Homo sapiens: one gene and its partners. The protein of the gene in region 2 interacts with the protein of the main gene of each other region in a biochemical or structural test. Each region holds a gene or a part of one and is shown on either strand. Other genes may lie near its edges.

Evidence for each region. Proteins that work in one complex are often made in the same cells at the same time.
Region 1: the proteins of HELLS (region 2) and DCAF8 form a complex in vitro, tested with the Homo sapiens proteins (one study listed by BioGRID).
Region 3: the proteins of HELLS (region 2) and USP11 form a complex in vitro, tested with the Homo sapiens proteins (one study listed by BioGRID).

Annotation. Positions count from the first base shown.
Region 1 is NC_000001.11:160,252,550-160,259,576, forward strand, and holds part of DCAF8 (DDB1- and CUL4-associated factor 8), read right to left. Parts: intron 1-7,027. UniProt on the Homo sapiens protein: May function as a substrate receptor for CUL4-DDB1 E3 ubiquitin-protein ligase complex.
Region 2 is NC_000010.11:94,569,763-94,576,789, forward strand, and holds part of HELLS (lymphoid-specific helicase), read left to right. Parts: exon of another isoform or gene 1-1,625; coding exon 1,626-1,667; exon of another isoform or gene 1,668-4,197; coding exon 4,198-4,425; intron 4,426-4,791; coding exon 4,792-4,974; intron 4,975-6,899; coding exon 6,900-7,027. UniProt on the Homo sapiens protein: Plays an essential role in normal development and survival. Involved in regulation of the expansion or survival of lymphoid cells. Required for de novo or maintenance DNA methylation. May control silencing of the imprinted CDKN1C gene through DNA methylation.
Region 3 is NC_000023.11:47,235,982-47,243,008, reverse strand, and holds part of USP11 (ubiquitin carboxyl-terminal hydrolase 11), read right to left. Parts: intron 3,940-7,027; coding exon 3,830-3,939; intron 3,659-3,829; coding exon 3,528-3,658; intron 3,220-3,527; coding exon 3,102-3,219; intron 2,705-3,101; coding exon 2,559-2,704; intron 2,423-2,558; coding exon 2,361-2,422; intron 2,236-2,360; coding exon 2,133-2,235; intron 1,733-2,132; coding exon 1,559-1,732; intron 1,469-1,558; coding exon 1,310-1,468; intron 928-1,309; coding exon 703-927; intron 571-702; coding exon 487-570; intron 384-486; coding exon 289-383; intron 1-288.

The DNA of each region.
Region 1 (7,027 bases), on a different chromosome or scaffold from region 2:
GTATAATAAAAGCTTTGTTGTTGGGGGGCAGGCAGTCAGGCATCAGAGAAATTATTTTGTCAAAGATAATAAGATGGACTGAAATGAAGGAAAAGGAAAGAGAAACAAGTTTAAAAGCTATTATAGTTGCCAAGATAAGAAGTAATGAGGGGCTGTCTTGGGTTGATGGCAAAAGGAATTAAAAAGGGATCAACATGAGAATCGTTGTAAAGGTAGATAATGTTTAGCTCAATAAGCAGTTACAAAGCTGAGTTAAGAAGGACAAGTTCTTAGTCTGGCGCCCAGAGAAAATCAAGTGACACAAATGAGAAGCTGGCAGGTGGGATGAGAAATTATTCTGAATAAATTTAAAATCCAAGCCGACATGTTAGGAAGGTACTGACGAACAAATTTAAGTTTGGAACTTAAATAAAGTAAGGCCAGAGATACAGACTTGTGAATTATCTGTACAGAGAAACTTCAAAATCAAACACCTTGTAAATCATATCTCACTAAAACAAACAATTAGTTACCTAAGAAGGCTCTGGGAGAGGATGTTCAAGGGAAGAATCTTGAGGAATACCTACCCTTAGAGAAGAGAAAGGAGAGCAGAGAGAAAAATTGAGAAGAACGAATAATCAAAATTAAACCTCTGGAAGTCAAGAATAAAAAGGTTTCAAGGTGAGGATAGGCTGGGCGCAGTGACTCATGCCTGTAATCCCAGCACTTTGGGAGGCTGAGGCTGGAGGATCGCTTGAGTCCAGGAATTTGAGACCAACCTGGGCAACATCAGGAGACCCTGTCTCTAGAAAAAATTTAAAAATTAGGCTGCGCACAGTGGCTGACGTCTAAGTGACGCTGGTAATCCCAGCACTTTGGGAGGCTGAGGCGGGTGGATCACCTGAGGTCAGGAGTTTGAGACAAGCCTGGCCAACATGGTGAAACCCTGTCTCTACTAAAAATACAAAAATTAGCCACACGCGGTGGCATACGCCTGTGATTCCAGCTACTCAGGAGGCTGAGGCAGGAGAATCACTTGAACCTGGGAGGCAAAGGTTGCAGTGAGCCGAGATCGCACCATTGCACTCCAGCCTGTGCGACAGGGTGAGACTCCATCTCAAAAAAAAAAAAAAAAAAAAAAAAAAAAAATAGCAGGGTGTGGTGGTGTACACCTGTAGTCCCAGCTACTTGGGAGGCTGAAGTGGGAGGATCACTGGAGTCCCAGAGGTCGAGATTGCAGTGAACTGTGATGGGGTCACTGCACTCCAGCCTGGGTGACAGAGCAAGTCCCTGTCTCAGAAAAACAAACAAAAAAACCAAGAAGGTAAGGAGGATAGTCCATGCTTCCAAAAAAATACAGAGAACAGTATACTGTCAAAAGGCTGTAAGAGTCAGAACAGCTTTTCCCCTGGAATTATCTCAGAGATTGAATGGAATGCTGATTTTCTCTCCAGTAAAGAATCATAAAACACTAGGATTCAGCTATCTCTTAAATCTATAAAAATTATTTCCTGGGATGGGTGCGTGGCTCATGCCTGTAATCCCAACACTTTGGGAGGCCGAGGCAGGCGGATCATGAGGTCAGGAGTTTGAGACCAGCCTGGCCAACATGGTGAAGCTCCGTCTCTACTAAAAATACAAAAATAAGCTAGGTATGGTGGTGCATGCCTGTAATCCCAGCTACTGGGGAGACTGAGGCAGAAGAATCGCATGAAACTGGAAGGCAGAGGTTGCAATGAGCCAAGATTGTGCCACTGCACTCCAACCTGGGCCAAAGAACGAAACTCTGTCTCAAAAAAAAAAAAAAATTGTTTTCTTAAAAACTCATTAGCTTACCAATATAGCATAACTATGTCTAAACAATAAAAAAAGTTTGTATTCCTACTGTCATTTGAATAATTTATATACATATGTTTATAAGAAATATTTAATTCTACCTTTCAGCTTCATCTCTTGGCTTTGAAAAGCCCTGGTTTTTTTTTTGGCCAGGTACCATGGCTCACGCCTGTAATCCCCACACTTTAGGAGGCCGGGCCGGGTGGATCACGAGGTCAAGAGATCAAGACCATCTTGGCCAACATGGTAAAACCCCATTTCTACTAAAAATACAAAAATTAGCTGGGCATGGTGGCATGCGCCTGTAGTCTTAGCTACTCGGAGGCTGAGGCAGGAGGACTGCTTGAACCCGAGAGGGGAAGGTTTCAGTGAGCCAAGTCATGCCACTGCACTACAGCCTGGCGACAAAGCAAGACTCCATCTAAAAAAAAAAGAAAAAAGAAAAGTCCTATTTTTAAAGACAGCATGTGTTATGAAAGAAAGAAAAGGGCTTTGGTGTCAAACAGACCTGGGTTTGAATTCTACCTCTACCACCTGCTTTTGAGTTTTTCTTTTGTAAAATGGGATAATATTACCACCCTGCAGGAATTTAGAGGATTAAAAATAATGTATGCTAAGAGCCTGTTTGTACATAGTAGCCATTTATATTATTTTTCTAGTTTCCCATCTCTATACCAGACTACATTTCCTAGAAAATCCTGGACCTCTTTACCACTCAGCAATGATTCTCCAAACATCGTATATAATATAGGACACAGTCCCAAGTCTATGAAATCTGCTTACCCTTTCTGGCGTTTTAAAGAATTCAGAGAGCTCCGTTAATATCTTCTTTCAAGTATTCATGTTCTACGAACTGCAGTAAGACAATCTACCCAGGAACCCACAATATAAGCCTCCCTAAGTTTTTCTCCCTCTTTTAATTTTTAAAATAGATTTTTTTACTATTATTATCGTAGAGACGGAGTCTCACTATCTTGCCGCGTGGTCTCAAACTCCTGAGCTCAAGTAATCCTCCTACCTTGGCCTCCCAAAGTGCTGGGATTATAGGTATGTACCACCACACCTGGCCTCTTCTCCCTCTTGAAGGTTCTGAGGATACCCAAGATGGAAGACTGCAAAGCAATCACCATGGATAATGATGAGGATTCAAACTATGAATAAGGAACTTTGTTCCTTCTTTGAATTAATGCCTTCTCTCCCTATTGGTAACATAAAATGCCCAGTGTTTATAGTTTACTGGCTTTAATTATTGTTTTTTTATTTTTATTTTTTTGAGACAGGGTCTCACTCTGTCACCCAGGCTGGAGTACACTGGTGTGATATTGGGTCACTGCAACCTCTGCCTTCTGGGTTCAAGCAATTCTCCCGCCTCAGCCTCCCAAGTAGCTGGGACTACAGGTGCATGCCACTGCAGCTGGCTAATTTTTATATTTTTAGTAGACACAGGGTTTTGCTATGTTGGCTAGGCTGGTCTCAAACTCCTGACCTCAGGTGATCCGCCCGTCTCAGCCTCCCAAAATGCTGGGATTACAGATGTAAGCCACCGTGCATGGCCTCTGGCTTTAATTCTAATAACAGTATTTCAGACTATGTCAGGAATGCACTCTAACCCTTAAGTGTTAATTTCCAGCAGCAGAACTAAGCAAACTTTTTTTTTTTTTTTTTTTTTTTTTTTTAAGAGACAAGGTCTTGCTATGTTGCCAGCCTGAAACTCCTGGGCTCAAGCAGTCCTCCCAACTCAGCCCCCCGAGTAGTTGGGATTACAGGTACATGCCACTGCACCTGGCTAAGAGAACTTTCTATAAAAACATCCAGGACCATTTATCTCAGTTTAACTAATTCCTAGGGAAATCTACTTTTCATTTTGTTTCCATCTCAATTTACATTTACATCAGAAGTCTGTTGCCATTAACAGTTTTTGCCATTTATATTTCAAATTTTTCTTAAACTGGAGAGGATTTAAGATGAAAAAATGATGCTCCCAAGGTACAACTTACAATAAAACATTAAAGAGAGGCTTAAAACCTCAAGAAGTGCCTTCCTACAGGTTAGGTTAGAAGAAAGGGTCTAATGTTGGATTCTAAGTAAGGTTAACAAAACATACCTGGTAATGTGGCAATCATTAAAGTACACCAGAGGAATACAGTAACTTGACTACCATTAGAGGTAAACCCTATAGTAGCTTTCCAGATGGCTAAGAAAAAGCCAGGAAGAAAAAAAAAAATGGCACGTGAGGCAAATATGTATGCTTCACTTTAGAACTTGGCCAGACTTCCTTAAACAGTAACTTCAGAGGATAAACAGCAAATATCTAATCTAAAATGTTTGCATTGACCCAATCCACTAGACATACTATTAATACATTTCATTAATAAGATGACATCTTTGTCATATTAATTACTCCCCAATGCCCTATTGGCAACCTCAAGGCAGCCTCCGTTCATTAATTTATCTGTATCATAACACATTCCTGGGGTTAGATGGTACTTGAGAAATCTGGCTTCTGGCCCAGGAACTATGTCCTACAGAGGTAGAGATAAAAAAAAACTGCTGCAAAGAAGTGACTAATTCATAAAATTCATCACTCGCTAATTTTTGAAAAGCTTTCAAAGACTTTCTACTCACTCCAAGAGCAGAATGACTAAATCAATAAAGAGCAAGTAGCCTCCTTTTCTGACTGATTTTAACAGCAATGATGTTTCTTGGCTACATTTGTAAAAATAAAAGATGAAGTTTTTAATATTACTATAAAGCTAATCTAAAACTCACTGGCTTTTGGCTCTAAAATGAAAATATACAAAGTCACTACCCCATGCCTATTGCTGATTCAATTAATTCAGTTGCCTGTGTTCCAAATAGGTGAGGGTAAACAGCAGATTATCTTAGCTCACTGATAATCTGCTTTAAAAAAAAAAAAAGCTAATTCAATCTCAGAGACTTAAAAACTAACTCTAACACCAATGTTATGCAATAAAAAGTCTGGTTTGGATACCGTTATTTCTCTTTTATAATCTGGATATTTCCTAGACATGTTTAGAATAAACTTTTATACAGTAGAAATAATGGAGTAATGAATCTATCTACTGAAAGCATTTTAATAGTCACTTTATGATTTTAAAAGCCTATTACTCCCCTGATAGAATACAAGACTTAGAGCACGAAACTCAAGATCCCAGTCTTTCACAACAGGGTGCGCTTCTATACAATGTCTCCTACTAGAATCTGTTTGCTTTTAAAATGCCAGTATTGTTTTAAACTGGCAACAAAGAGGCTGCTTTCTTTCAGCTCTCTGTAGACAAGCTTCTGTCTTAGGTTGGTCCTACTCCACACTAAGGACCATGGCACTGGAACTGATTCTTTTTTTTGAGACTAGGTCTCGCTCTGTTGCCCATACTAAACTGCAGAGGCGCAATCTCAGCGCACTGCAGTGATCACTGCGCAATCTCAGCTCTACCTCCTGGACTCAAACAATCCTCCCACCTCAGCCTCCCAAGGAGATGGGACTGCAAGTACTTGCCCCATGCTTGGCTTTTTTTTTAAACTTTTTGTAGAGACAAGGTCTCAATATTGCCTAGGCTGGACTTGAACAACTAGGATCAAGTGATCCTCCCACCTTGGCCTCCCAAAAGTGCTGGGATTACAGCCATGAGCCAGCCGCACTCAGCCTGGCAGATTCTTATACATTTAATTGACTGCATTTAGCAGGGTGCAGTGGCTCACGCCTGTAATCCCAGCACTCTGGGAGGCTGAGGCAGGAGGATTGCTTGAGCCCAGGGGTTTGAAACCAGCCTGGGCAATATGGTGAAACCTCATCTTTACAAAAAATACAAAAATTAGCCAGGTACGGTGGCGTGCACCTGTAGTCCCAGCTACTCGAGAGGCTGAGATGGGAGAATCACCTAAGCCCAAGAGGTCGAGGTTGCAGTGAGCCATGATAGTGCCACTGCACTCTAGGTGACAGAGTGAGATCCTATTTCAAAAATAAATAAATAGACTGCACTTTAAGAGGTTGGTGGTGGGAACTAAAAGGTCACAAGCATTCTTAGCCTCCCACTCTAATCATCCTAGGAAATACTACCTAATAAGATGTCACAATTCTTAAGTAAACACCTAAAACCCTGGAAATATAAAAATATCTTCAAGCTGGGTGCTGCGGCTATGCCTGTAATCCCAGCACTTTGGGAGGCCAAGATGGGAGCATCACTTGAGCCGGGCAAGTAAGACCTCATCTCTTTAAAAAAACAAACAAACAAAAAAAAAACAACCAAAAATTAGCTAGGTATGGTGATATGCCCCTGCGGTCCCAGCTACTCAGCTGAGGTGGGAAGATCACTTGAGCCCAGGAGTTTGAGACCAGCCTAGGCAACAAAGTGAGACCCTATCTCTACAAAAATAAAAAAAACTTTAGAAAGATAAAAAGTTTACAGTGTGGTCCACAGACTAGAAATACTGATTTACTACATATAGATGTCACCTGGACATTCTTACCCAGCACATAAGGAAATAAACAGTCCAAGTTATCCCTCTTTCAAAGTATTTCCTTTTCTCCTCCCATCCTTTCCTTCACCCGACATGGATCTTCAGAGTTCATAAAAACACAAATGATACAAATGCAATCTCAACCCACCTCACCACCACCCTGGAGAATCCTTACCTTACAATGGAGAATTTAGACCCTGGATGATGGTAATGAAAAGTTCATCAAACCTAAAATGGTCACTGGTCTGAATGACACAGCTGCTTTCATTGTGATATTATCAGTACTTAATTTTCATGTGCCCTTGCCAAAAAGATACGAAAGAAAAGCCAACAAAAGGTTTAAAACTCTTCATCTGTGCTGTCATATTATTAAGACGGTCCAGCTGTGGAGCTGAAAAAAGAACTCTTTGGCCGGGCATGGTGGTTCACACCTGTAATCCTAGCACTTTGGGAGGCTGAGGCGGGCAGATCACAAGGTCAGGAGATTGAGACCACCCTGGCCAACATGGTGAAACCCCTCCTCTACTAAAAATACAAAAATTAGCTGGGCATGGTGGCGCATGCCTGTAATCCCAGCTACTCGGGAGGTTGAGGCAGGAGAATCGCTTGAACCAGGGAGTCGGAGGTTGCAGTGGGCTGAGATCGCGCCACAGCACCCCAGCCTGGTGACAGAGCAAGACTCGTCAAAAAACAAACAAACAAACAAAAAAAACCTCTTCATTCCTAACTCCCC
Region 2 (7,027 bases):
TAAAAAAATAGTTGGTTCAAATCAGGATCCGAAAAAGTTACATAAATTGTGTTTGATTAATGCGTATCTTGGGTCTCTTTTAGATCTAGAGTGTCTCTCATCTTTTTTAAGAAACATTATTTGTTGAAGAAAATGAGTAATTCTGTATAATTCCCCACATTCTAGACTTTACTGATTGTATCCCCATGATTTCTCTGCCTCTTGTGTTTCCTGTTAACTATAGTAACTATAAGTTAAATACGGAAGTTTGTGATTAAGGTGTTTTTTTATTTTTTTTTTTATTTTTATTTTTTTTTGGGAGACAAGATCTTTCTCTGTTGCCCAGGGTGGAGTGCAGTGGTGCCATCTCGGCTCATTGAACCTCTGATTGCTGGGCTCAAGCAATCCTCCCACCTCATCCTCCTGAGTAGCTGGGACTACAGGCGTGTACCACCAAGCCCAGCCAACATTTATATTTTTTGTAGAGATGGGATCTCACCATGTTGCCCATGCTTGATTTTTAATAAGAATACTTCATTGGTGGTATTTATAGATTTTGATTTATTTCCAAATTGTTCTTTCAAAAGTTTCATTTTATCTAGTCATTTTACAGGACAGCTTTTATCAGTTCCTGGTATAAAATCCTTTTAGCCTCAGCCTTATAATATGAATATCTATACATACATAATACTTCATACACACACGATATACATATATTCCCATGTATATATATGTGTGTGTGTCAGCCACTTACATGTCCTGTTACTCTTCTATGAATCTTAAATTTGATATTGCTGTTTTGAATCTACTTCATCCCCTATGCCTTCTATATTCTCTCTGCTTGAAATCTACCCTCACTATCTTGAATGATGAAGCCTGGTGACAACTTTTTAGATAATTTTATGTAAGATAATTATTTGCTAAGTCATCCAGTGACATACTCGGGTATTGTTTGTCTCCCTACCAGCAGCATCTAGTAGGTACTTCAAAATCAGAGCACTTTATTCTGTATTTTTAATTTTTTCTGTCTTTGCCTCTTACCCAGGAATGCAAACTCAGATGTCTATCCACAGAGGCCTAAAGTGGGCTGTAACATGGTTTGGCAAACTTTTTCTGTAAATAGCCAGATAGTAAATATTTTTAGCTTTTGAGTAGTTTTGTGGGCAACTACTCAACCCTGTACTCTGCTGTTGTTGCTTGAAAGCAGCCATAGACAAACCGTAAACAAGTGAGGCTGACTTTGTTCCAATTTATCCCATTTCTTTGCTTTTAAAAAAATACCTGTGTATTCGCTTAGCTGGAGTTGGTCTACAGGCTGTAGTTTGCTGACCCCAGGACTAGAGGTTTGTTGCCATGTGTGAATTTGTACTTAATCTACTCAGATTAAAAGAAAGAAAAGCTGGAAAATCACTGTATTTGATGAAATATCCCATTGTATAAGTGTTCCCAAATTAGCCTAGAATGTTATGAAATATTATGAGCCAGTAATGTCTATAGGCTTATTTCTGCCTGAAGGCTACTAGTTTTATCTTGAGAATCTCATCCTCATTTCCTGGCAAAATGAGCACAGAATAAATGCTTGTTGAATAAATAAATAAATGAACTTCATACATTATTAATTTGTTTTTGTTTTCTCAAACTACTAGGAAATTTTGTCTGTGGCTAAAAAAAATAAAAAGGAGAATGAGGTAAGAAATTTATAATGTAAGATTAAGTTTAGAAGTCATATTTACTCCTCAGTTACTAGTCCTTTTTCTTTAATCAGCAGTATACGTTCTTCTCACTATTATCCTGTTTCTTTGCTTTAAAAAAAAATACCTATGTATTCACTTCTTCCATATCCAACATTCTTCTTTTTTATGTATCAACTTTAGTTAGTTGTTTTATTGCATGATTCTTGATGTATAAATGTTAATTTATGGGTCTAGCAATGTTGCTTTTAACTTGTGAATCTGGCAGTGATACAAGTGCTCGTAACCATGTGGATATAAACCGTGAATCATCTTATGGAAGCTGTGAGGGATGCCTTAATCTTGCTTCAGACCTTAAAGATTTTTTAAGTTTCTTAAAAGTTCTGTTTGAGAAGGCTTGATTTCCGAGCCACCTCTTCACTTAGCCCATTTCATGTAGAGAGGTTCCTTGTTATCTGACTTTTTATTGTTCAAGTACTTAAAATTACAAGGTTGCCTAGGGAAGCAAAATAATCATGACATGAAAATATTCATGAATGGATATGAACTTCAGGTAGTTAATTTACATATTAAAGATTTTTAGGCCTTTGGGAAATTAATGTTATGTTTATAAAATGAGAGATAATCTATTTGGTCATATAATTTTGTCCAAAATTTATATTGTAAAAGTGTCTTGGTTTTTATTCTTTGTTAAGTTATTAAGGACTGGTTTATGGGTGCAGTTTAGTTGGATTTTTAAAGATTTAGTTAGATAAACATTTAGTTGGATTTTTAAGATAAAGTCTAGATGTAATCTTCTGTAATTTACTATGGGATTTTGGCTTCATTTTATAACTTACAGTCAGTAAGAAATAGTTGTTAAGTATGGTATTTTAATGAATTTCGACACTTGCATACACTTGTGTAACCACCATCCAAATCAAGGTATAGAACATTTCCATTGTAAAGGGATCTCTTCTATGTCTTTCCACCCCCAAACCCAGAGGAGGCCACTTTTTACACCTTTTATAGGATGGCTTATTATTTCCTTTCCACTCAACATGTCTGTGATACTCATTTATGTTGTTGAGCATATTAGTAACCGGTTTCTTCTTATTGACTAGTATTCTGTTGAATGAATGTTACAATTTTCTCATCCATCCCCTTATTGATGGGCATTTGGGTTGTTTGCAGTTTGTGACTTTTATGAGTAAGGTTGCTATGATAATTTGCACACAAGTCCATGTGTAGACATGTTTTCATACTTTCTGCCTGTGTACCTGGGAATGGTATTGTTGTGTTACGTGGCAAATGTGTGTTCATAAGAAAGTACAGATTTTCCCCCCCAAAGTAAACACATCATTTTATTCTCTCGCCAGCAATGTTTGAAAACTCCAGCTTACATTATTGTCAGCATTTGATAGTCTTTTTAATTTCAGCCATTTTATTAGATGAGAAATGGTAACTTGTGTGGTTTTTAACTTGCATTTTCCTAATTACTACTGAAGTAGAGTATATTTTTATGTTCTTTGATAACTATGTTTTCTTTCTTTTTTTTTCTTTTTTGAGATGGAGTGTCACTCTGTCGCCCAGGCTGGAGTGCAATGGCACGATCTCGGCTCACTGTAAACTCTGCCTCCCAGGTTCAAGCGATTCTCCTGCCTCAGCCTCCCAAGTAGCTGGGACAACAGGCTCATGCCACCATGTTCAGCTAATTTTTGTATTTTTAGTAGAGACAGTGTGTCACCATTTTGGCCAGGATGGTTTTGATCACTTGACCTCATGATCTGCCTGCCTTGGCCTCCCAAAATGCTGGGATTACAGGCGTGAGCCACCATGCCCGGCCTGTATGTTTTCTTTTGTAAAGTATCTGTTAATATCTTTTGCCCGTCTTATTTATGCGTACTGTATTTTCTGTGTAACAGTTTAATAAATTATTGAGTATCACAATATTAGAAGTTTGGAAGAGAGATACAATTCTAATGATCTTTTCAAAAGTATGTGCCTGATTTTAATTTGTAAGGGTTATTCTCAGATTTTTATATTTTATTTTATTTTATTTTATTTTATTTTTTGAGATGGAGTCTTCTGTCACCCAGGCTGGAGTGCAGTGGCTGTGTTCATGGCTCACTGCAGCCTTGACTTCCTGGGTTTAAGTGATCCTCAGCCTCCCGAGTAGCTGGGATACAGGCAGTTGCGTGCAACCACACCCAGCTAATTTTTTGTATTTTTAGTAGACACAGGGTTTCGCCATGTTGTCCAGGGTTGTCTTGGATACCTGGACTCAGGTGATCCTCCTGCCTCAGCTTCCCAAAGTGCTGTGATTGTAGGATTAGCCACTGTGGCAGCCTGTTATTTTTTTTTTTAGTAGCTTTTCATTTGTAGAGGGATGGCGATGTCTCCAGTTTTTTAATCCAGGTGTGATCTTAGTCTTCTATACTTAATGATTATAGGACTCAGTAGATTTTGTTAGTTGCATTTTCTGATAAATGGTGGCATACAGCAGCATTTTGTATAACACATCTTATTAAACTTTTTTTCTCTACAGGATGAAAACTCCTCCTCTACTAATCTCTGTGTGGAAGATCTTCAGAAAAATAAAGATTCGAATAGTATAATTAAAGATAGATTGTCTGAAACGGTTAGGCAGAATACTAAATTCTTTTTTGACCCAGTCCGGAAGTGTAATGGTCAGCCAGTACCTTTTCAACAACCAAAGCACTTCACTGGAGGAGTGATGCGATGGTACCAAGTAGAAGGCATGGAATGGCTTAGGGTAATGAATTGGAATTTTTAATACAAGATACTGGTTTTATTTCTATAGTAGCCTAATGATTTGAGGTACCACAACTTGAGTCATTTCTATCATGTTTCACTATTATACATTTGTATGTGGATACTTGCTTTCTGATTTCTTTACCCTGAATTTTTAGAAGTAGAAATTACCTTGTTAATGGCTTCCAGCACTTTTATGGCTTTGATAAAGGACTTTCCAGTGTTGTTATAATTTATGGTGTGAATATATCAGCTTTAACATAATTCTCATCTTTGGGTGTGATTTTTTAAAGAGAAGAAATAAAATATTGTAATCCTGTAGTTGTTTATATCCAAGTTTAAATACAGTATCTATTATTTTGTCCAGATGCTTTGGGAAAATGGAATTAATGGCATTTTAGCAGATGAAATGGGATTGGGTAAGACAGTTCAGTGCATTGCTACTATTGCATTGATGATTCAGAGAGGAGTACCAGGACCTTTTCTTGTCTGTGGCCCTTTGTCTACACTTCCTAACTGGATGGCTGAATTCAAAAGATTTACACCAGATGTAAGACATGCTTCCTTATGTTAAAATTATAATTTTACATGTTTTCTTATGCTTTGTTGTAGTAGGAATTAAATTGTAGAACTCTTATAATTATATTGGTTTCTGTATAAATATTTTGTCTGATTTGACTTACTCAATCTGCACAATACCCTAATTTAAATTTATATAGTATAGGTTTTGGAAATCCCTGACATCTTTCCTAAAATATTCCTGAATGATTTTCAGTGCATTGGTAATTTGATTCGACTGAGACAGACTTAGGTAGAGATTTTATTAAAAATTCTGCTTGTTCTTCACTTGATCTTTGCCAAAAGGCTAAGAAGAGAGTTTTCTGTTTTTTCTGTACTTGTTACCTTCTGCAATTTTTTTTTTTTTTTTTTTTTTTGAAATGGAGTCTCTGTTACCCAGGCTGGAGGGCAGTGATGCAGTCTTGGTTCACTGCAATCTCTGCCTCCCATGATGAAGCAATTCTTGTGCCTGAGCCACCGGAGTAGCTGGGATTACAAGCATGTGCCACCATGCCCAGCTAATTTTATGTTTTTAGTAGAGACGATGTCTTGCCATGTTGGCCAGGCTGGTCTTGAACTCCTGGCCTGAAGAGATCTGCCCACTTTGGCCTCTCAAAGTACTGGGATTATAGACGTGAGCCACTGTACCTCCCGGGCCCAGCCCTTCTGCACATTTTTGCCTTATGAGAAATATATATATTCTAGACGTAGTATCACCATCTGTCTCATTTTATATATTTATATATATATTATTTATTTATTTATTTTGAAATGGAGTCTGTCTCTGTCACCATGCTGGAGTGTAGTAGCTGGGACTACAGGCGCACACCACAAGGCCAGGCTAATTTTTTGTATTTTGGTAGAGACAGGATTTCACCATGTTGGCCAAGATGGCCTCTATCTCCTGACCTTGTGATCCGCCCACCTTGGCCTCCCACAGTGGTGGGATTACAGGTGTGAGCCACTGCGCCCAGCCTATATGTGTTTTATGTATTTGTAGGTTTTTTGTTGGGGGGGGGGTTGTGTTTGTGTGTGTGTGTGTGTGTGTGTGTGTGTGTGTGTGTGTGTGTATGACAGAGTTTCACTGTTGTTGCCCAGGCTGGAGTGCAATGGCACGATCTCGGCTCAGTGCAACCTCCGCCTCCCGGGTTCAAGCGATTCTCCTGTCTCAGCCTCCCAGGTAGCTGGGATTACGGGCGTGCGCCACCACGCCTGGCTAATTTTGTATTTTTAGTAGTGACGGGGTTTCTCCATGTTGGTCAGGCTGGTCTGGAACTCCCGACCTCAGGTGGTCTGCCCGCCTCAGCTTCCCAAAGTGCTGGGGATTACAGGTATGAGCCATCCCACCTGGCCCGTCTATTTGTTTTTATGCCTTTTTTTTTGTCTTCAGACAGGATGTTGCTCTGTTGCTCAGGCTGGAGTGCAGTGGCGTCATTCTGGCTCACTGTGGCCTTCACCTCCCAGGCTCATGTGAGCCTGCTATCTCACACGCCTGAGTAGCTCATGTGAACCTCCCATCTCACTCCACTGGGTGAGTAGCTGGCACTACGGGTGCGTACCACCACACCAGCTAATTTTTGTATTTTTTGTAGAGATGGGATTTCTCCATGTTGCTCAGGTTGATCTCGAACTACTGGACTTTAGAGATCGGCTTGCCTTGGCTTCCCAAAGTGTTGAGATTATAGGTGTGAGCCATTGTGCTGGGCCTGACTTTGTTTTTTTGTTTGTTTTTTTTTCATTTTCTCCCATAATAGTTCAATGATTTGTTAGAATTGCTTGGCTTATTTTGCTATAGAAAAATAGAAATAAAATTTTTTAAAATTATATTTTTTCCCTCAGAATGATTTATATTTTCTAAATAGTCAATATTTACATTTTGTTCTTAAGTCTGATAAAAATCAATATAAAATTTTTCAGATCCCTACAATGTTATATCATGGAACCCAGGAGGAACGTCAAAAATTGGTAAGAAATATTTACAAACGGAAAGGGACTTTGCAGATTCATCCTGTGGTAATCACGTCATTTGAAATAGCCATGAGAGA
Region 3 (7,027 bases), on a different chromosome or scaffold from region 2:
TACAGGCGTGAGCCACCGCGCCCGGCTTTATTTATTTTTGAGATGGAGTTTTGCCCTGTCGCCCAGACTGGAGTGCAGTGGCGTGATCTTGGCTCACTTGAACCTCTCGGGTTCAAGTGATTCTCCTGCCTCAGCCTCCCAAGGCATGTGGCTGAAGCTCTGCGCAGGGCAGGTGCCCAGTGAACGAGGCAGAGGCAGGGAAGAGAGAAGGTGGTTAAGGCAGGACCATACAAAAGGAAGTGGACCAAGTTCCTGAGGAACCACCACCTCCCTGCCATCCCCACTCACACGAAGATATCATCACGGTCCAAGATGCTGCTCAGAGGCTCCTCTAGCTGATAGAGCTTATAGAAGCGGTGACTGAAGACATCAGCCACCATCATCTAGGAATGGGATATGGAGAGGGGACTGTTAGTCTGCACGGCCTCCCAGGCCCTTCTGCCTCCTTGCCCTGGAATCCCATCCAGCCTCCTTCTGCAGTCTCACCCTCTCTGGCGAGATGCCCGTGTGTTTGGACAGAGCCACACATAGATCCGAGATCTTGCCTTTCTTGGGGACCACGAGCCGGTGCTAAGGGAAAAACGGTATCCACAAAAGACCAAAAGGGCTTGTGGTGAGTTAATGCAAGAAGCCTTGAGCTATGGCAGCTAATCAAACTCTATGTGTCCATCATCATCTCCCCAGGCCCCCACTGCCCCACACCTGCTCTGGCTTGCGGCGCGGATCCATGGGGATAAAGAAGACCTCCAAGACCCTCTTGTGGCTGATAGGCAGTGGAACACTGAGGTAGCAGAAGGGGTCGAAGGTCACAGATACATTGCCACAATCGGGGCACACCAGCGTGGACTTGAAGAGGCCGTGGAAAGTGTCCACGATCACAGAATCGTTCCGCCGTTTGTGGTTTTGCCATGCCTCCTGTGCCACCTCCTGTTGATAGTGTCATGGTGGGTGGTGGGGCTTGCCCAGGGTAAGAGGAAACCATGGCTTGGGGTGCATTCAAATGGGGTGAAGCGGAAGGCCACTGCTAAAGTCCAGAGGCAGAGCTCCAGCTAGGGATACACAGAGACTATGTTCACGGTCAAGACTGGGGGTCATTTAGGGCAGGAGACTGCGCTGGGGTTTACTCTGGGTTGACTGTGGGGGCAGATATGGTATTGCAACTAAGGTTAAGAGTAAGGCTGGAGTTGAGGTCAGGTAGAGAAACTTAACAGAAAATGGTGGCGTGTTAGATACCCCAGGGAGGCCAGAAAATCCCCGAGGCAGAGGCCTTGGTGATGTTAATTGGACTGCAAATGCGGGGGCAGCCTACCTGATCCGGTCGCCCAGCAGCATCGCACAGCTCCACATACTCCTTCTTCTTCACCCGATTAAGGTCCTCATGCAGCCCGTCCAGGAGGAATGACAGCAGCTCCTGAGAGTCATGCTGCTGGTAGCCCAGAAATTGGGATGCAAAATGGCCAACCTTGTTCTAAGAAGATGGGCAGGGTCATCAGAGAGAGAGGGAGTTAGGAGAGCCAAGAGACGTAGGGGGTCGGGGGTGCCCAGGGTTGAGTCACACCTTGAACACATGTGGCACAATGGAGCGGTGGTGGCCAGACCACGCCTGCTTCACCAGGTCTGCATAGGCCTCTGCGATCTCACCCTTCATGCCCAGTGGGTTGCGGAAGTTGAGCTCCTCCAGGTAGCAGTTGTTGAGGAAGTACTCGGTGAGCTGTGGCACATTGCTGAGGCACTGCAGAGGCCAGAGACCAGGTGAATGAGGCAGAGGGGAGACAGAAGGTTCAAAGTGAGGATACACAAAAAGAAGCCAGGAGGAAAGAGAGAGGAAAACAAGAGAGAAGGGGAAGGGAGGAGAGAGAGGAGCAGGAGAGTAGGGGAGAGAAGGCATTAGGATTTCACGAGAAGGAAGAACGTGGGAACAGGGAAGAGAAGAGGGAAAATGAGGGCAAGCTGAGAGAAGAGGCTGATAGTTCAGGAATGAACGTGGGCGTGCCACTTCAGACTTGTGGGGCCTCAGCTTTCATCCTGACCCCTTGCCCTGTAGTCCCCTCAGGACCCCAGCTCTGTCCCCAATCCTCAGCTCTTGAAGCCCAACCACGTGGCTGTGCCAGACACAACTATAATGGCCCAACCTGCAGGGCCGAGTTCATGAAGCACGTGTTGCCCAGATTGGTGAGGCCACAGATGCCTGGCTGACCCTTGAAGTCCTCATCCTCTTCCGACATGTTGTTGTTCCTGGGGTTAGATGAGAAACTGTCAGCTGAGGGCCTGCTGCATGGGGGTGCAATGTGCTCATGGGCTAAATCATTTTGCCTACTGTGGGACGCCCCCGCTCTGGACCAGATACCCCAAGGGCTCACATGACATGCAGCTGTGCGCTGGGCCAAGTGCCATCTTTCTTGCGGGTCTCCATGATGATCAACTGGGTTGGAGAAAGAGAAAGAAGGAAAGGTATTAATGGAGGACATTATGGGTACCTAGCCTTCATTTCCCCCGAGTACTGCCAGGTGAGTCTATCTGCCAGTCCACCTGAACAGAAAAGCCCTCCCCACCCTTACCTGCCCAGTCTCAAGGGCCGCATCGAGAACCGTGATGTGTGTGTCATACAACCTATCCAAAGAGCCTTCTGAGTTCTTGGCCCAAAGCCGAGTGTCTTCCTGGGGCTCCACCAGAAACCGCTCCCGAGCTGTGCGCAATACTAGGCCTGTGCGGGGTGATGGAGTACATTCAAGATCTTTGTGAGACCCAAAATGATCAATCCATCTGGGCATACCTGACTCATCCCTACGGACCTCACATGCTTGGCCAATACCTGTGTCCTCAATCAGTCTCCAAATGACTGGCCCACACTCCAGACTGGAGATCTCCAGCAAATATCCTCTGCCACACCACGTAAGCCACTAGAATGTAGCTCACATACCCTCAGGGCTCTAGTAGATCCCCTCAGTGCCTCCACCCAACTTAGCCAATGCCTTCTGGGTCTTCCAAAGTCTGACCAGTGCCTTCTCAGTCAGCTTCAGCTTAACCCTATGCAACCTCAAGTCACTGAGTTGGGACTAGTAGCTAGGAACACCAACCCATTGCGTGACCCTTAGACTCACCAATAGAATCGGTATGGCTGAACTGAACAGTGTGAGATTTGCCCAAATCATTGTGCCGGACAAGCAGCAGTTCTACTGGGTACACTTCGACCTTCTGGATGTTGGGCAGCTCTATGACCTGTAAGAGTAGAGGGGTGCAGACACAGGTGTACTCACACAGACACAGCGCTGTGACCTCTCAAATGAGAGGAGCACACACTCTGCCTTACAAACATAGCATACAAACACACATATACAATGGTCTGTAAAGAGAGCCACACAGGGGAACACACACAGCAGACAAAGATACCTGTATGATGAGCTAGGAGGGGGAAGAGAGCAGACATATGTGTACCTACCCAGCATACATGGATCTGTACCCATGCTGGGCCTACAAGGCTTTCTTACTACGCACTCCCCGCCATGCACCCTCCCCATCCATTATACCTTGCGTTCAATGGGTGGCTGGCCATGCTCTAGACCATACCAGCTGACCAGGTAATGCCAAGCAGCTGCTGGGAGCAGCACATAATCCTCGCCTTCCACCAGTCCCTCCTTGAGGCGCCAGTTTATCTCATCTGTGGGGCGGGGGTGGAGGTGGCAGAGGAAGAATCAACAAAGGAAACTGACGAATGACTCTGGCCACCCCACCAGTGACCTAGCACACAGAATGGGCTTATGATCATCTGTAGGGACGGAAGGGACAAGAACTCCAGGGCTAGGGTGAGAAGGAGGCAAAGGCCTTGTACCTTGAAAGAGTGTGGCATTGTTGATGCAGCCAGGGAAGGTGCTGGAGTCCTGGTCCCCTCCCTGCACGTATGCCTCCCACTGCTTATACCAGTGCTTCTCCACAAGGAACCTGGGGCCCAGACAGGTAACAAGGGTGTTACATGGGTAGCTGAGGGTTAGCTATACAACTTCCCATGCCCAACAGACTGAAAGTATTGACACATTATAATTTAAGATGAAAAGTTTCAGCATCATATAAAAATAAATTCGAAGCAAAATTTATTCAGTGAAACTCAGATTTGTATGTTAGATAACTTCTTAGTATTAAAAAAGAAATCTGATTAAAAACAGAAAATGTGGTTAACAATGGCAAACAAACCAACAAAAAATCCATACTTATAGTGCTAGGAAACATGAGGTTTTATTATAGAATAAAAGATGATTCATTTGAATTAGTCTGTGGGATAACCCAGTTAAGTTAGGCTCAAGATATGTGCCATCTGCAGCTAATTTTATAAGGCTTTAGCCATTCATTATGTGTTTGTTTCTAAAGGATCTATCAATGGAAGCATAATTCTTCAGCTAAGAACTAGATTTGATAAATGGTGAAAAATCTGCTTTTAAAAGGAGCAAAGAATTTAAAATGCTAAAAAGAATCATAAGGTTTTCCTTCAAAAACTGCATACTGAAAAAAAAAAAAAAAAAAAAAAAAGACCGGGCACAGTGGCTCACGCCAGTAATCCCAGCACTTTGGGAGGTCAAGACGGGTGGATCACCTGAGGTCAGGAGTTCAAGACCAGCCTGGCTGACATGGTGAAACCGTCTCTACTAAAAAATACAACAAATTAGCCAGGTGTGCTGGCACGTGCCTGTAATCCCAGCTACTTGGGAGGCAGAGGCATGAGAATCACTTGAACCCTGGAGGCAGAGGTTGCAGTGAGCCGAGACTGCATCACTGCACTCCAGCCTGTGCGACAGAGTGACTCCATCTCAAAAAAAAAAAAAAAAAAAAGAACTGCATATTGCTATTGTTCATCATTTTTTAATTTAGAATTTACTTTGGCTTTATAGTAAATTCCTGAGCTTATGGTTCTCTTAAAAACTGTGATAAAAACATGTAACATAAAACTTACCATCAAGCATTTTTCAGTATACAGTTCAACTAGCTCTCTTTTAAAGGTGAAACTTATATGTACTACAAGGATAACCATTTAGAACTATATTGAAATCTACCTTTGTGAGAAATCCTGAAGTTTGGAAAATACTTGACATATAATAAGTGCTAAATGAATTTTAGCTGTCATTGTTCTGACAGCTTGGACTTCAGGACTTGGACATAAAAGCTCACAGACATAAACCTCCTCCTGCCTAAACACACACACACACACACACACACACACACACACACACACATACACACACACCTGTTCTGCTGTGGCATTTCTGACACATAAAAGGCTATCCCAAATACTGAGCAGCCTCAAATAAATGCTTTTTAAAAAATAACCAAATTTGATGAAATGCACATAACATTATATTGGCTGGTTTTCAAGCAATTTAACCTCATTATTATTATTATCATTTTTTGAGACAGAGTCTTGCTCTGTCGCCCAGGCTGGAGTGCAGTGGCACAATCTCAGCTCACTGCGACCTTTGCCTGCCGGGTTCAAGCGATTCTCCCAATTTAACCTCATCAATGTGATTCTTTAAAATGTCAACTTTCCCTTGTTCATGAAAGGATCAGAGAGGTGGGAGGATGGAGGGACAGACAAATCTTGGAATAGTCACAAGTCACCTAGATAGGCAAACATTTCTGTGGGTTTTTTGTTGGTTTTGTTTTTTTGCTGCACTGACCCCCACAGACCCTGCCCCATATCACTCACACCAGGGAAACAAACCCTTCTGTGCCGGTGGCTCAATGCTCAGACCCAACCCTGCACCCCACACACCACCATCCACCCTTTGTGGCTTTACTTGCCTCCATAGCCAGTCTATGAAGTTAATTTGTTCAGTAAAGCTATAGTTAACAGTACCTTCCAATGCAAAGGTAGGCACTGCTCAACTTCTTTTTAAGAGCAGATTTTGAACAAAAAATAACATTAAAATCACGCTGTAGAGTGGTAAGCAAAACTTCCAGACCTGGTCACAGGCTGAACTTCTATAGATTTCATAGAGGACTGACATTTTACATAATTTTTCACAGAAAATTATTACCATATTGCTTCAAGTCAAAGACACTTTAAAAAAATCATTGTTAACATCTCTGAAATCAGGATGTCTCACAATCTCTGTCAGGCCAGGTGGCAGTCACAACAAAGGTGTCATGGTCTGTATCAATAACACCCAAATTATTATATTTACAGCTGGGTATTCAATTTTTTGGATGCTATCATAAATGGTATCATAAATTTTAATTTTCTAGTTTCTTGCTGCCAGTATATACAGGTACAACTGATCTTGCTAAAGTCACTTAGGTTTATTCGTGCTTCCTCAAATTTGTTGAAATGATATGAAATATGTGCTTATGGAAAAAAGTTGCTAAACAATTCTTTATTTTCTGTCTTCTAGTTTTCTCTTGTGTCTGATTTGTGTTTGAAGATGGTTCATCCCACAAAAGGAAAAAGTGAAAATTTCCAAGGAGGCTATATTATTACAGATTTGAATTTGCCTTAAAATACAAGCTTCTCCCAGAAATTAAATCAGTTGTGATGACCAAATTAATTAACTACCCTCACCCAAATCTGCCAGCTGACAAAAGACAGAAGGTGCAAATATTAATACTGATACAAGATATATGATTTGGGGTTAGTCCATGACTTCAAAATGCTTTATAAACACATATATCCTGGCCACTTAAGCAAACCCCTGTAAAATGGAAAATGGACAGCAATAAAGAACCTTGAGATGCTTTGCTCTTACTAGAGAAGCATTAACAAAGTGGAGTTTAGCAAAAATGCTTCATGATAATACCCATGACAGCAGAGACAAACCGGCTTCAACACTGAACCAACACTGGTGTGGTAATTTTTTTAATGAGGTGAAATTCACATAACATAACATTAACCATCTTAAAGTGAACAATTCAGCGGCATTTAGAACATTCACAATGTTGTACAACCACAACCTCTCCCTAGTTCCAAAATATTTCATCATCCCAAAAGAAAACCCAGTACTGGTGGGGTAATTTTAAAGCGTATTATCAAGGATGACAGGATGTC